Homo sapiens: one gene and its partners. The protein of the gene in region 4 purifies or fractionates together with the protein of the main gene of each other region. This does not show direct contact. Each region holds a gene or a part of one and is shown on either strand. Other genes may lie near its edges.

Region 1 (3,614 bases), on a different chromosome or scaffold from region 4:
TTTTTAGTAGAGAAGGAGTTTCACCATTTGGCCAAGGCTAATCTTGAACTTCTGACCTCAGGTGATCTGCCTGCCTCAGCCTCCCAAAGTGTTGTGATTACAGGCATGAGCCACTGCACCCAGCCTGGAAAGGCCTTTTCTAAAAAGGAACAAGGGCACTGGCCTTGGACTGACTTTTCCCAGATGTAATCTAAATGAAACTACGAATCACTTCTGAATTTTGACTCTCCAAAACTGAAGGAGAAGCAAGAGATTAATATATTAAATAGATTCTTTGCTACACTAACATAGAAAGTATTAAATTAGGACATCTTATGGACTCATGTTAATGTAAAAACATAAGTGCACTAACTAAATATAACAAACATAAAACTTTAGACTCCATGCCACACAGTCTATTAGTAGATGTTGCTTGTGTGAAGCATAAAATTACCACCTGTTTAGTTCTTTTAGGCAACAGATGCAATCAAATAATAATCTAAGCACATAGTTAATATTTTCAATTATCACATAAATCATCTCAATAATGTCTCCATCACTATAAACACTGCATGTTTTTTCTTATCCTGCACTATTTAAGTTCCCAATAGAAGTACCATGACAGTAGACTTAATTTTTTCATACCAAGATACCCAGCAACACTTTTCAAAAGATCAAATTCCTTCATGTTCCTGCACAAATTTAAATTAATTTTTATATTGTTAATACACTTCAAAAATATATTTCCATAACATTTTTGTTGAGCACAGTAGAAAGTACCATTTTAAAATACATTTTTCCTAAAAAGAAAAAAAAAAAACCAATAAAACAAAGTCACGAATAAAAGCCCTGGATTTATAAATGTGCCCTTTGAGCACATCTACGCAGCATTCTCACTTCTGCTGCTCACTCAACTAGCATTCTCCCCTCTGCTGAGGCTTTGAAGAATTTAACACAGTAATTGCTTTAAAACAATGGCTTTCATCAGATGTGTCCAAACCGACTGGCAACACTGGTAATGTTTTGAGGATGATGGTGGCCCCCATCCCTAGTGGAGCTTTCTAAAGGAATATGCACAGGCAGCTGGAAAACGTTCCTCATCTGACCTCCCCCGAAAAGATCCTGGCCTCTCTCCTTTCCTGCTACTCCCTCTACAACACAGCTTTAGATAATCTATACCTTGAGAAACAAAAGGAAAGAAGATGTGGAAAGCAGAAATACTTCAGGGGAGCTGATGCAGTCTGGACTTTCACACAGGGCTGTCCTTAACTTCTGCCCCTTCCTGCAACTTCACTTCCTTCACCTTCCATGGGGTCTTATAGTAAGGGGCTTAGCGCTCTAGAAAGGCACTGGGAGTCTTGTCGGGGAGCATCAGGAGATGAGAACAGAAGAGAAAGGAGGTAAACTATGCTAAAACTTGCCTCCTAGCTGCCCTGAAAAGAATGAAGGACACTGTTTCTAAGACATGGGGCCCCTGCTCACAAGTCAGAACCTTGGTATCACCTCACAGTTCAGCTATTTTGCCACAGCCATAACGCCATCACCAAGAACAGCTCTGCTGCTGTAACAAACACTTTCAGAAACTAAAGTGAACCATTTTTAAGTTGGGATTTGTCAGAGTTAGCATTTCATTCACTGATTTCTGGGAAGCGACGAGTAAGTAATAAGATGAATAAAGATAATGACCCCGGACTGACATTTAAATTAAACTTTCCTTCATGATTAAAGTCCTAATTTAAAAACAAAATGAAATTTCTATTCCATTTAGACAAAAAAATACTCCTCAGTGAAGGAAGGTCCTATAAACAAATTAATCTAAATGAGATTGTTTAATAGTTAATTCTAGATTAATTTATTCTCATATTACTCTAGACCGGTTTAAATTGTATTTCAGAATCTGCAGTCTTCATGAAGAAAAAATTTAATTCAGTCTCAGATAGGATAGATTCATCAGTCATTTCTATTTTGATTCCTTGACATATTAAATGGATCTTGGGTGTTTTCTGTTACTGGGAAGCTTTGGACAAATTTCAATTAAGATATCTGCAGACTTACAATCTCCTAGAGATGTTTATCTTAAATATTATTGAGACAGAATTTTATTAATGAAAAAAATTGTTTACTAAAAGTAAACTGAGATAAAGTAAAAAAACAAAAGGAAATCCCAATAGGATTTTAGCTTTCTGAGGTTCAACTATTTGTGCTTCAGGTCATATGTGAAACGATAACAAGGTAAATATTCTAATAATGACACTATTTGTCAAGAACCTGTCAGTTTTCATGGGTGAGTGTTTATGCATCTTTGTCATTTATCCTAATATTCTTATTTTTCCTTGAGAGAGATATTATAATCCAACCAAGTAACAGATGAAGGAAACTGTTCCCTTTCATGTTGCTGAGCCAGGGTTCAACCAATAAAAGCACAGTGCATGATAAATTTGGGCATTACACTTTCAAAAAACAGCAGATCTTTTAATATCTAATTCAGTGTGCCTACTGTCTAGTAAATGTTAATATTCTATTGTGTGGCCTGGTGTGTCTACAGCTTATACCAAAAAATTAACAAGCTATCCCCCAAATTACTTTCCAGTTCCAAATGTGGATTCAAAGTATAGTTAAACACACAGCAATAGTTTTTAAAGACATACCTACGTCCTCGTACTAGTAGTCTGGAGGCTTTTCCTAGTAATTCAACTGCCTGTCGTAAGCGTTCTTCATTCTGAAGGAATCAAAGAAAAACAAGTGTTGGCTGCTTTAATGTTGAAATGTTTTTATCCCCTAATATTTATTTTGTAAAGAAGTAATGGCACTGGATCAAGGGGGGAACACGAAAGCTGCTAGTTCATTTCACTACTCTCTAACAGAAAAGAAATAGCGTGCAACTGTGAGCAGGGAAAAGTTTTAAAAGTAGCCACTGCACTTCTCTATTTTCCTATATATTATTAATCTAAACATTCTAAGTAATTAAAGAAAAAAATAAGATTCAAACTTACTTCAAACACATTAGCTGTCTGTTGATATAACTGTACAGCCTTCTCTGGATCAACATTTTCTATAAGCCTGAATCAGACAAGAAAACATGTCTTATATGAGAAATGGAAAACTTGTTTTTCAGGGACCTCTTTAAAACAAAAAGACAAGACTTCTATGCAGAGACTTGTCCATCTCACACTCACTTTCCAGCTCGCTCCAAAGCCATGGCTGCTGTGTCTGGGGTGCCGTTTTCTAGATACATCATGCTGGCCTTCTCAATTAGCTGAACGGCCTCTGGTAGTTTCTGCATCTCCTTTGGGCAAAGGATACAGTAGACAGGTCAGCAAATGCATCAATTAAAGAAAAACAGAGTTAACAATCTGAAATGCAATTATTTTTTATTTTAAGTTCTGGGACACATGTGCAGAATGTGCAGGTTTGTTACATAGGTATACATGTCCCATGGTGGTTTGCTATACCTATCAACCCATCATCTAGGTTTTAAGCCCCGCATGCATTAGGTATTTGTCCTAGTGCTCTCCCTCCCCTTATTCCCCAGCCCCCGACAGGCCCAGGAGTGTGATGTTCCCCTCCCTGTGTCCATGTGTCCTTGTGGTTCAATTCCCACGTATGAGTGAGAACATGCGGTGTTTGGTTTTCTG
Region 2 (3,042 bases), on a different chromosome or scaffold from region 4:
GAAAACAGTGGCTTCACATTTTATGTTTTCTTGGATTAAACTAATCAGACTCCTGAAGCTTAGTTACATGTGCTTTTAAAAATAATGCTTGCGTAATTGATAATTTAGTGTTAATCATTTAAATGTTAACTTAGGTTGTTGGTGCTATCGAATAATACTCAGTTCGAGTAAGTAAAAAGTCAGATCCTGAGCAATCAGAGGTGCAATTTTGTTCATTATGACTGTATTCTACTTCAGTTTCGGTTCAGGAAAACCCATTCTATAGTTCCCATTGACTACCTTTGGGTACTCATACACTGTATTAAACATCAGATAATTCTAACATTCATTCAGAACTGGAATGCCCGCTCTATGCTGGATTCTGTTAGTTGCTGAGGATACAATAGTGACCAAAAATGCAATTTCCTTATGCATCCTTTACCTCTTCTGTTCTGCAACCAACATTTGTATGAGCCCAAAATTCCCTTGTAAGATATAAAAAAAAAGACTTAAGTTCAATGTTTCATTTCACTCCGTTTTTATCCTGTTTTCAGTTTATGTAATAAGAACGGGCAAACAGCTGAAGATCTCGCTTGGTCATGTGGATTTCCAGACTGTGCCAAGTTTCTTACAACAATTAAATGTATGCAGACAATAAAAGCAAGTGAACACCCTGACAGGAATGATTGTGTTGCCGTGCTCAGACAGAAACGGAGTCTCGGAAGTGTAGAAAATACCAGTGGGAAAAGGAAGTGCTGGTAAGTAACTCAGAGCTGCTGCTTTTTTCCTCCCGCAGTGATCTCTTGTTTGCATAGCATTTATTATTCCATTTAATACTGACACTCGTATTTCTAGTAGTATTGTTTCATTCTCATTAACATTTTAGTACTGGTTATACTTACCAGAGTCTAGAGACCAAAAATGGGACTGCATGGTGGAAGTTTGGGGATAAAACTCTTTTTAAAAAAAAGTTTTTAATGTTAACGTGTTTTTAAAAACAGATGTCACGTGGGTTATGAAGAAGTCTGAAGAACGCCTTCATTTCATGCAAATCTATAAGCTCCTGCTTTTGGCTTTACCATATGTTGTGTCTAATCTCCTTCTGAGAAGGACGAAAAACTTTCTTCCAAGTGAAGATCCATTTAAGAACACATGTATTTACATGCCTATAATATGCTGGTTGTGTATGCTTTGTCTTTTAAGTTATTAAAGGAACGTCTAAAAAATACATTCTCCGTGCAGTATTTACAACCTTTGAAAAAGGTCATAATTTAAATCGTCAAACTAGAACCAGGATTTAATGTGAAAAATTAAACTGATTCTTTATTCACAAATTTATAATACCACTCTACTGCAGTCTTTGACTCCAAGATATTTTAAATCATATTTGGTCGCTGAGGAAGACATAAGTTATAGTATGCATCCTTGTTCCAAAAATCTGGGCCCTTCCATCCGCACCAGCCCTGGATAGAGAAGACGGGAAAGGAAAGCCTTTTACAAAGTTACAAGATTATGTCATGGAAATCGTGACATCAGGCTCTGTCAGCAGGACCTTGGAATAAGACTCTAAATGGCTTTATCATTCAAGGATTTGAATTCCTACTAGCATAGAAAAGTAACGTATCTTACCCTTTAAGGTAGGTTTTTGAACTTTTAATTCTATGTATGTAATTCATCATAAAAATCATTAAAAAAAATTTACCTGTAACTGTTATTCCAGATACCACACTTTACTGATTCTGAGATGTATAGTTTTACCACTTGCAACTGATAGCATGTGACAATTGAACTAGCAATCTGTTTTTCTTAATAGTCCATAAAGGACTGTAAGAGACCATTCAGTGGCATCTTAGGATTGAAGTACTGTAGTGAGAAACCTCAGCTTGCCCCCTGCCTGGCACTCTGTGCCCTTTCATTTTCAAATTCCAGGTGTTACTCAATTCTACTTCCCATGTTTCATGTCAGTATTAATCCTTTTTGCCAGCAGAGAAAATTACTTTCAAGCAAAATCTCATTTAGAGTATGAAAATTTCTCAGATTTCTCCTAGGGCCACTGAGTTATTTTATTAAAGAAGAAAACTTAAAAGCCAATAACTGGTCTGTATTATATGATTCTTAAATGCTTTGAGAAATCCTTGCAAGGAGGCTGAGACTCTGAAAATACCATGAAGTGAGTGACAAGCAGCGGTCTGACTCCCTCCTAATAAGATACACGTTGTCAAAAAACAAGATAAAAGTAAAAAATCCTCTACCAGTCCTAGGTAATCCCCCACTCTCCCTAGGTAACCAGCATTCTATTAATCATCTCATTTTTTCAGCAAAACTTTCTCTATTAATTTAATGTCCTAAAATCTGTTCTCTTAACAGACAGAGAAAAAAGGCTCATTCTGTTTTAACCTTTTTTTGATCCTTTTACACATGAAGGCCTTGTCCAGGTAACCAGATCCAGATTTTTTAAAGGAGAAATTGGTAGAGAGGGTGTCAGAATGGGATTGCATAGGGACATAGTGCATAGGACATGCTTCTTTCCTGTGAGATGACCAGCATGGGAACTTCAAACAGGAAAGCACCACAAGAAGGCAAAGAGGTCAGGCAGAGATGGAACTCTCCTCTGGCCTCCTGGGTTCCTGGAGTCAAGTGAATCAATAGTTTTAATGGCAGGACCTTGGCTGCACAGTTTCTTGTGTATACAAATAGAGCAAGGAGGTTTCTGCTGTTGAAAAGTTCTATAGAAATAGAACTAGCAAAGATGGAGATTGCAATTCTCAGAGAAAGAAATCAGGGACAATCCCTTACTCTAATTGTTCAGAAACCTTACCTAGATAATGCCATGTAGTGCAGAGCCCCTTGAGTCAACCAGAAAAGAGAAATTTGATGATGAAAATAATTAAGGCTTCTCCCTGCCTTTAAGAAAAAATCGAAATGCCTGGTTCACAAAGACCACCCTTTCTGACTGAGCTTGGTGTGTCCTTCCAGCCTCACCTCTTCGCCTAGCTCTGGACGCACTGATCTACCTGCAGTGCGGCTTTCACTGTTTCTACAAGGCAGGGGCCACCACAGCAC
Region 3 (3,614 bases), on a different chromosome or scaffold from region 4:
AATTTATACTGAGGATAATAAGGAACTGCTAAAGGATTTTAATCAGGAAAGTGACACAATCAGATGGTTATAATGCTCTGTCATGTTTTCGTAGGTATTGGAGTTTTCGACTAATCTTGTTAGGTCGTGAACTCTTTGTTTATCATAGTTTCCTTTTCTTAGTCCAGTTTTGGACACTTTTTTTATATTCTTTGTTTGCACTAACACCTTTTTATCAGGTAAAGGCCTCATCTAGTTGAGATCAAGTTTCCTGAAAATTATGGAGTTTTAAAAAATGTCTTATAACTTTTTATATGGTGTACACAGGTGACACATTGGATAGTGTAGTATTGAGCAAGTACTACTCGTTTTGAAAGTCTTTTGTGTTCAACAAGCTATTAGGTGTGAGTCCAACTATTTTTATTAAGCATTTTTCAGGCTATTCAACACAAAAGATACTTGTGGACCTATCTCCTCTATTTCCTCCATTGTAAGATGCACATTTTTTTCAGTTTAACATCTCTGGAATTGCTTTGGGTATTACAGGTTATGGGATGTAATAGTTGAATTGCTAGTGTTTTATCATTCTCGGTGGTACATAATGGTGCCACTTAAAATAATCTTAGAGTTTATGAAATATTATAATACATTTGAGAGGCCTTGGTGCTATTTCTTAACAGCAATATTAATCTTGGGACCTGCAGTTGTAATTTATTTAGATGCCTTTTCAACTTTTCAGTTGTCCTTTTATTTGTTATAATATCACAGGCTAAACACAGCAGAGATACCATGTCCAGAACCAATAATGCTAAGAAGTCATGTTCTTGTCATGAGTTTCATCGGTAAAGATGACATGTAAGTACATGGAAGGGCTAATAATTGCATTCTCAGAACTGTATTTTTAAGTTCTTTGAGTTTATCCACTATATGAATATTTCCCATTTGAATAACTTATTAATCTTTCCCACTATATTAGTGAATAAGTGTTATCAATGTATTCTACCTTTTCAAGTCTGAAAATGCTTCAGAATGAGGAGCAAGTTAGTCCTGTGTTGGAGGGTGGTCTTATACAGTGTGTTGGGAAAGCATCTATTTGCCGGTACCTTCTTGGTTTATGTGCATTGAGACAGATTGTCCCACATACAGCTCACATGATGAGTTGTAGAAGAGAAGGGCATGTAACAGTATAGTAAGAAGCAAGAAAACTTGTTCTTGGTCATTTTATCTTAGTTCTTTTCATTCAAGGCCTGCACCACTCTTGAAAAATGTCCAGTTATCAGAATCCAAGGCTCGGGAGTTGTACCTGCAGGTCATTCAGTACATGAGAAGAATGTATCAGGATGCCAGACTTGTCCATGCAGATCTCAGTGAATTTAACATGCTGTGAGTGTATTTTGTCTCTTAAGAACTGCCTGTCAGTTGTTTCGTGTCCTTTAAAATGATAAACAAAATCCCAATCCAAGAAGTCACACTAACTTCTGAAGTTTTATTGTTGACTTCCAAATGGTATAAGATAGGATTCCTTTTTTCAGTGACCTTAGTCACCGAATTGACTGCTTGGATCATTAACAGTGAATGGATTTTGGAAATTTTCCCAGTTCCATCTGTTAGTCAAGATTGCCTCATCTTATCTACCTTGGTGATTTTGTGAGCTACTTCCCTTGCTTTTAAGAGTAGAATTTATTTTAAACGAAAAACATAGTAAAGTAATACCATCCCACAGCTTCTGTGTCTCTGGCCCATAGGTACCACGGTGGAGGCGTGTATATCATTGACGTGTCTCAGTCCGTGGAGCACGACCACCCACATGCCTTGGAGTTCTTGAGAAAGGATTGCGCCAACGTCAATGGTGAGTAGAAACGGCAATTTTCGAAACAGCTCATTGGTCTGTTTTGGTTTTGTACTCAGTTAAGCTGTTGGCGTAAAATTTTCTCACTAAATTGTTTGGTGCAGTGATGCTTAAACCATTTGCTGGGAGATGGTATGTAATTTTATCTCCTTGTTTCTCTATAAGGTAGTTGGAATAATAATATTTTTCCTCATAAAAGCTGTCATTAACGTTTTTCCTTCTGACAGATTTCTTTATGAGGCACAGTGTTGCTGTCATGACTGTGCGGGAGCTCTTTGAATTTGTCACAGATCCATCCATTACACATGAGAACATGGATGCTTATCTCTCAAAGGTAAGATGGGGAGAGGAAGGAGGAATAGGAAATAGCAGTACAGGTGCAGTATCTCTTATCTCAAGTGCTTGGGACCAGAAGTGTTTTGGATTTTGGATTTTTTCCAGTTTTGAAATATCTGCCTTGTACTTACCCTAGTTGAGCATCCGAAATATCAAAATCCAAAATCCTCACTGCTCCATTTCACATTTCATTTGAGCATAATGTTGGTGCTCAAAAAGTTTCGGATTTTGGAGTATTTCAGATTTTTGATTTTTAGATTTGGGATGCTAACCAGTAATTGCATTTGCTTGACACTTCTGAGGGACCCAGATTGCATAGTGTAGTTTATTCATTTTGACAGCTTCCTGAGACCTTTTCCTTCCTACTTAACAGATGAAGAATCAAAAATACAGCACAACAGCCAATGGTAAAGCCAGGGGTTTTTTTTTTTTCCTTTTTTTTTTTTTTTTCTTCTCCTGAGTCAACTTGATATCCAAGCTTTTTACTTCAATTATCTGGCAAGATTACATAGACTGTCAAAGTTTGTGAAAGTTTAGCAAGAAAACTGTCAGTTTTTTGGTCATTAATTCTTTTCCCTTGTTTCTCAGGGGCCTTTCTCTTTTTTTCTTTTCTTTCTTTTTCTTTTTTCTTTTCTTTCTTTCTTTTTTTTTCTTTTTTGAGACAGGATCCCACTCTGTCACGCAGGCTGGAACATAGTGGCGCACTCTTGGTTCACTGCAACCTCTGCCCCTCAGGGTCAAGTGATCCTCCCAGCTCAGTCTCCGAGTAGCTAGGACTACAGGCACACGCCACCACACCTAGCTAATTTTTATATTTTTTGTAGAGACAGGGTTTCATCATGTTGCCCAGGCTAGTCTTGAAATCTTGGCCTCAGGTGACCCACCTGCCTCAGCCTCCCAAAGTGCTGGGATTACAGGTGTGAGCCACGACGCCCGGCCTCAGAGGCCTTTCTGAATATAGAATTTTTTAGAATTCTGGTAAAAGACATAATATAAAATTTAATGCTTTAACCATTTGAATGTATGGTTCAGTGGCATTAAGTACATTCACATTGTGGTACAAACTATCACCACTGTCTATCTCCACACCTGTTACATCATCCCAAACTGATATTCTGTACCCATTAAGTAACAACTTCCCATCCCCTGGCAATCACCATTCTACTTTCTGTCTTTGTGAATTCACCTACTCTAGGTACCTCTTATAAGTGGAATCATATAGTATTTGTCTTTTTGTGTCTGGCTTATTTCACTTAGTATGATGTCTTCAAGATTCATCCATGTTATAGCATGTGACAGGATATCTTTTTCTTTTTTTGTTTGAGACAGGGTCTCACTCTGTCACCAGGCTAGAGTGCAGTGGCGTGATCTTGGCTCACTGCAACCTCTGCCTTCGGGTTCAAGCAATTCTACCACCCTGGCCTCCCTGAGTAGCTGGGACTACAGGTGC
Region 4 (3,614 bases):
GATGTACCTTAAGGTACATGTTGGCCAGGATGATCTCGATCTCCTGACCTCGTGATCCACCCGCCTCAGCCTCCGAAAGTGCTGGGATTACAGGCATGAGCCACCGTGTCCGGCCTATAACAATATTTTTTTTTTCTTTGCGTCGGAGTCTCGCTCTGTCGTCCAGGCTGGAGTGCAGTGGCATGATCTCGCCTCGCTGCAACCTCAGCCTCCCGGATTCAAGCAATTCTCCTGCCTCAGCTTCCCAAGTAGCTGGGACTACAGGTGCATGCTACCACACCTGGCTAATTTTTGTATTTTTGGTAGAGACAGGGTTTCACCATGTTGGTCAGGCTGGTCTCGAACTCCTGACCTTGTTATCTGCCCACCTTGGCCTCCCAAAGTGCTGGGATTACAGGCGTGAGCCACCACACCCGGCGGAGCTACAAGTTAATGGACAATCACATACATTGCTACTGCATATTTATAGGCAAATTTTCTAGTGTGAAGTTTTGCAATGTGAATGAAGAGCTTCCTAAATGATTATATTTTTGGCCTAGTTAATTCCACCTTTAGGAATTTAAGCAGATTAAGTAAATAGGCTTAATATTATAATTATATTAATATGATATAATACATGTGGAAAAATAGGATAGAGAAAATATGTAAGGGACAACAATGTTGTAAAAATAAGTGTATGCTCAGGAAAAGACTGGAAAGGTACCCTGATATTTGGATAATTATTTCTAGGTGGTGGAAAATGGGTGAATTACATTTTTCTTATATTGACCTCCATTTTCTTTCTTTCTTTCTTTCTTTTTTTTTTTGAGACGGAGTCTTGCTCTGTTGCCCATGCTGGAGTGCAGTGGTGCGATCTCAGCTCACTGCAAGCTCCGCCTCCCAGGTTCACGCCATTCTTCTGCCTCAGCCTCCTGAGTAGCTGGGACTACAGGCACCTGCCACCACGCCCGGCTGATTTTTTGTATTTTTTTTTAGAGACAGGGTTTCACCGTGTTAGCCAGGATGGTCTCGATCTCTTGACCTCGTGATCCACCCTCCTCGGCCTCCCAAAGTGCTGGGATTACAGGCGTGAGCCACTGCACCCGGCCGACCTCCATTTTCTAAGTGTTCTACAACAAATAAATATGACTTTTATAATCTGAAAATAAATTGTTTTAATAAGAAAAGGTAGTAGGTCTTAATAGGGAAGGAAGAGATACTTATATTTTTGGAGGAAAAATGAATCATTTTGAGTTTTAGCACTATATACAAGAAGTCTTGAAGACACAAGATCTTGTCCCAGTTTTGCTATTACTGGGATAGTCTAGGTGGTGGAATTCTGGCATAGACTCTAGCTACTTCTTTTTTTTGATTCAATCAAGTCAATGTTCAAACAAAGGGCCCTATATATTCATTCTGTATAGTTGTGTGGGATGATGATAAATGTTATTCAGGAATTATTAACCTGTTTTTCAGCTCTGGAGCAGATTTGATTCTTTGGTAGTCATAGCTTGGATATTATCAATTATTCTCGCCAGAAACAACCCCAGGAGAATTGGTCCACTGAGAAACATATTTACAGTTGAACCTTGAACAATGTGAAGTTTAGGGGTGTGACCCCCCAACTACCCTGCACAGTTGAAAATCTGCCTATAACTTTTTATTCCCCCCAAACTAAATTGCTAATAGCCTAGTGTTGACTGGAAGCCTTACCTAGAGCATAAAGTCAATTAACACATATTTCTTATGTTATATGTATTATATGCTCTATTCTTACAATAAAGTAAGCTATAGAAAAGAAAATGTTGGCTAGGCGTGGTGGCTCATGCCTGTAATCCCAGCACTTTGGGAGGCTGAGGTGGGCAGATCACAAGGTCAGGAGTTTGAGACCAGCCTGGCCAATATAGTGAAACCCCATCTCTACTAAAAATACAAAAATTAGCCGGATGTGGTGTTGGGCACCTGTAGTCCCAGCTACTCGGGAGTCTGAGGCAGGAGAATCACTTGAACCTGGGAGGCGGAGGTTGCAGTGAGCCGAGATCGCAACATTGCACTCCAGCCTGGGTGACAAAGAAAAGATAAAAGAAAGGAAAGGGGAAAGGAAAGGAAAAAGGGTTAAGAAAATTATAAGGAAGAGAAAATATATTTACTATTCATTAAGTGGGAAGTGGATCATCATCATAAGTCTTCTTCCTCATTGTCTTCACATTGAGTAGGCTGAGGAGGAAGAGGAGGGGTTGGTCTTGCTGTGTTAGGCATGGCAGGAGGTGGAAGGGGAGGCAAGAGAGAAAGGCGTACTTGCTGTGACTTCATGGAAATACGTAGTAATTTCTGTCTGACTGTTTTACTTTTTTATTTCTCTAAAAATTGTTTTAGGTGGTAACAGTTCTTTTCCCACCATTTGCTTTAGTTTCATTGCCTGTATAGAAGGGTCCATGTTGTAAAAGAAGTCAAGTAGTCTTGAAAAATCGGAGCCCTTCTGCCAGATTGTCTAATGTCAGTTTCTTTTCTGGCACTGCTGCTTTTACATCTTCTTCATTATCTGGCAGTGGTTTGGAGGCACTCATCTCTATCAAGCCATTTTCTGTTAATATCTCTGGTGTTGTGTCTGTTAGCTCTTGAATTTCTCCGAGATCCAAATTTTGAAACGCTCCACCCTCCACCCCCCCTTTCCTTTCATATCTACCATATCTTTCATGATTTCATTGATTGGCTCTGTCGTAAATCCTGTGAAGATGTGCACAACACTTGGGCACAGTTTTCTCCAGCAGAAATTTGTTTCGTGTTGATGTCTTTCACAGCTTTTTCTATAACAATGGCATCTTCAGTGGTGTAATCCTTCCAGACTTTCATGATGTTTTCTTTATCAGGGTTCTCTTCTTCTTCTTCTTCTTCTTTTTTTTGAGACGGAGTCTCGCTGTCACCCAGGCTGGAGTGCAGTGGCGTGATCTTGGCTCACTGCAACCTCCATCTCCTGGGTTCAAGCAATTCTCCTGCCTCAGCCTCCCAAGTAGCTGGACTACAGGTGCACGCTGCCATGCCCAGCTAATATTTTGTATTTTAGTAAAGACAGGGTTTCACCATGTTGCCCAGGCTGGTCGCAAAATCCTGAGCTCAGGTAATCTGCCCGCCTCAGCCTCCTGAAGTACTGGGATTATAGGCGTAAGCCACCACACTGCCCAGGGTTCTCTTCTATGGCATCAACAATGCTTTCCATAGAGTACTGTGTGTAATGAGCCTTAAAGGTCCTTATGACCCCTGATCCAGAGGCTGAACTAGAGATGTTGTGTTTGGGGGCAAGTACAACACTTTGACACCTTCAGTGTTGAACTTGTGGGGTTCTGGGTGGCCAGGAGCATTGTCCAATAACAAAAGAATTTTAAAAGGCAGTCCCTTATTAACAGAATACTTCCTGACTTCAGGGACAAAGCATTGATGGAACCAATCCAGGAAAAGGGTTCTTGTTGTCTAGGCCTTGACAAGTACAGACAAAAGACTGGTAGCTGGTGTTTATCTTTTTCCTTTAAGGCTTGGGGGCTAGCAGCTTTATAGATAAGGGCAGTCCTAATCATAAACCGGACTGCATTTGTACAAAATAGTAGAGTTAGCCTATCCCTTTCTGCCTTGAATCCTGG

The links. The genes of interacting proteins can lie anywhere in the genome.
Region 1: the proteins of FAM177A1 (region 4) and NAPG purify together in Homo sapiens (affinity purification with mass spectrometry; 2 studies listed by BioGRID and IntAct, with this or other methods). This does not show direct contact.
Region 2: the proteins of FAM177A1 (region 4) and UFSP2 purify together in Homo sapiens (affinity purification with mass spectrometry; 3 studies listed by BioGRID and IntAct, with this or other methods). This does not show direct contact.
Region 3: the proteins of FAM177A1 (region 4) and RIOK1 purify together in Homo sapiens (affinity purification with mass spectrometry; 2 studies listed by BioGRID and IntAct, with this or other methods). This does not show direct contact.

Annotation. Positions count from the first base shown.
Region 1 is NC_000018.10:10,539,413-10,543,026, reverse strand, and holds part of NAPG (gamma-soluble NSF attachment protein), read right to left. Parts: intron 3,266-3,614; coding exon 3,156-3,265; intron 3,040-3,155; coding exon 2,973-3,039; intron 2,699-2,972; coding exon 2,628-2,698; intron 1-2,627. UniProt on the Homo sapiens protein: Required for vesicular transport between the endoplasmic reticulum and the Golgi apparatus.
Region 2 is NC_000004.12:185,399,037-185,402,078, forward strand, and holds the end of UFSP2 (ufm1-specific protease 2), read right to left. Parts: intron 1,688-3,042; exon of another isoform or gene 1,443-1,687; coding exon 1,356-1,442; 3' UTR 982-1,355; coding exon of another isoform or gene 981-981; 3' UTR 742-980; coding exon of another isoform or gene 534-741; 3' UTR 501-533; downstream 1-500. Other genes in the region: ANKRD37 (ankyrin repeat domain-containing protein 37), read left to right, coding at 534-741. UniProt on the Homo sapiens protein: Thiol-dependent isopeptidase that specifically cleaves UFM1, a ubiquitin-like modifier protein, from conjugated proteins, such as CD274/PD-L1, CYB5R3, DDRGK1, MRE11, RPL26/uL24, TRIP4 and RPL26/uL24.
Region 3 is NC_000006.12:7,403,194-7,406,807, forward strand, and holds part of RIOK1 (serine/threonine-protein kinase RIO1), read left to right. Parts: intron 1-747; coding exon 748-834; intron 835-1,224; coding exon 1,225-1,362; intron 1,363-1,724; coding exon 1,725-1,828; intron 1,829-2,055; coding exon 2,056-2,162; intron 2,163-3,614. UniProt on the Homo sapiens protein: Involved in the final steps of cytoplasmic maturation of the 40S ribosomal subunit. Involved in processing of 18S-E pre-rRNA to the mature 18S rRNA. Required for the recycling of NOB1 and PNO1 from the late 40S precursor.
Region 4 is NC_000014.9:35,070,209-35,073,822, forward strand, and holds part of FAM177A1 (protein FAM177A1 isoform 1 precursor), read left to right. Parts: intron 1-3,614.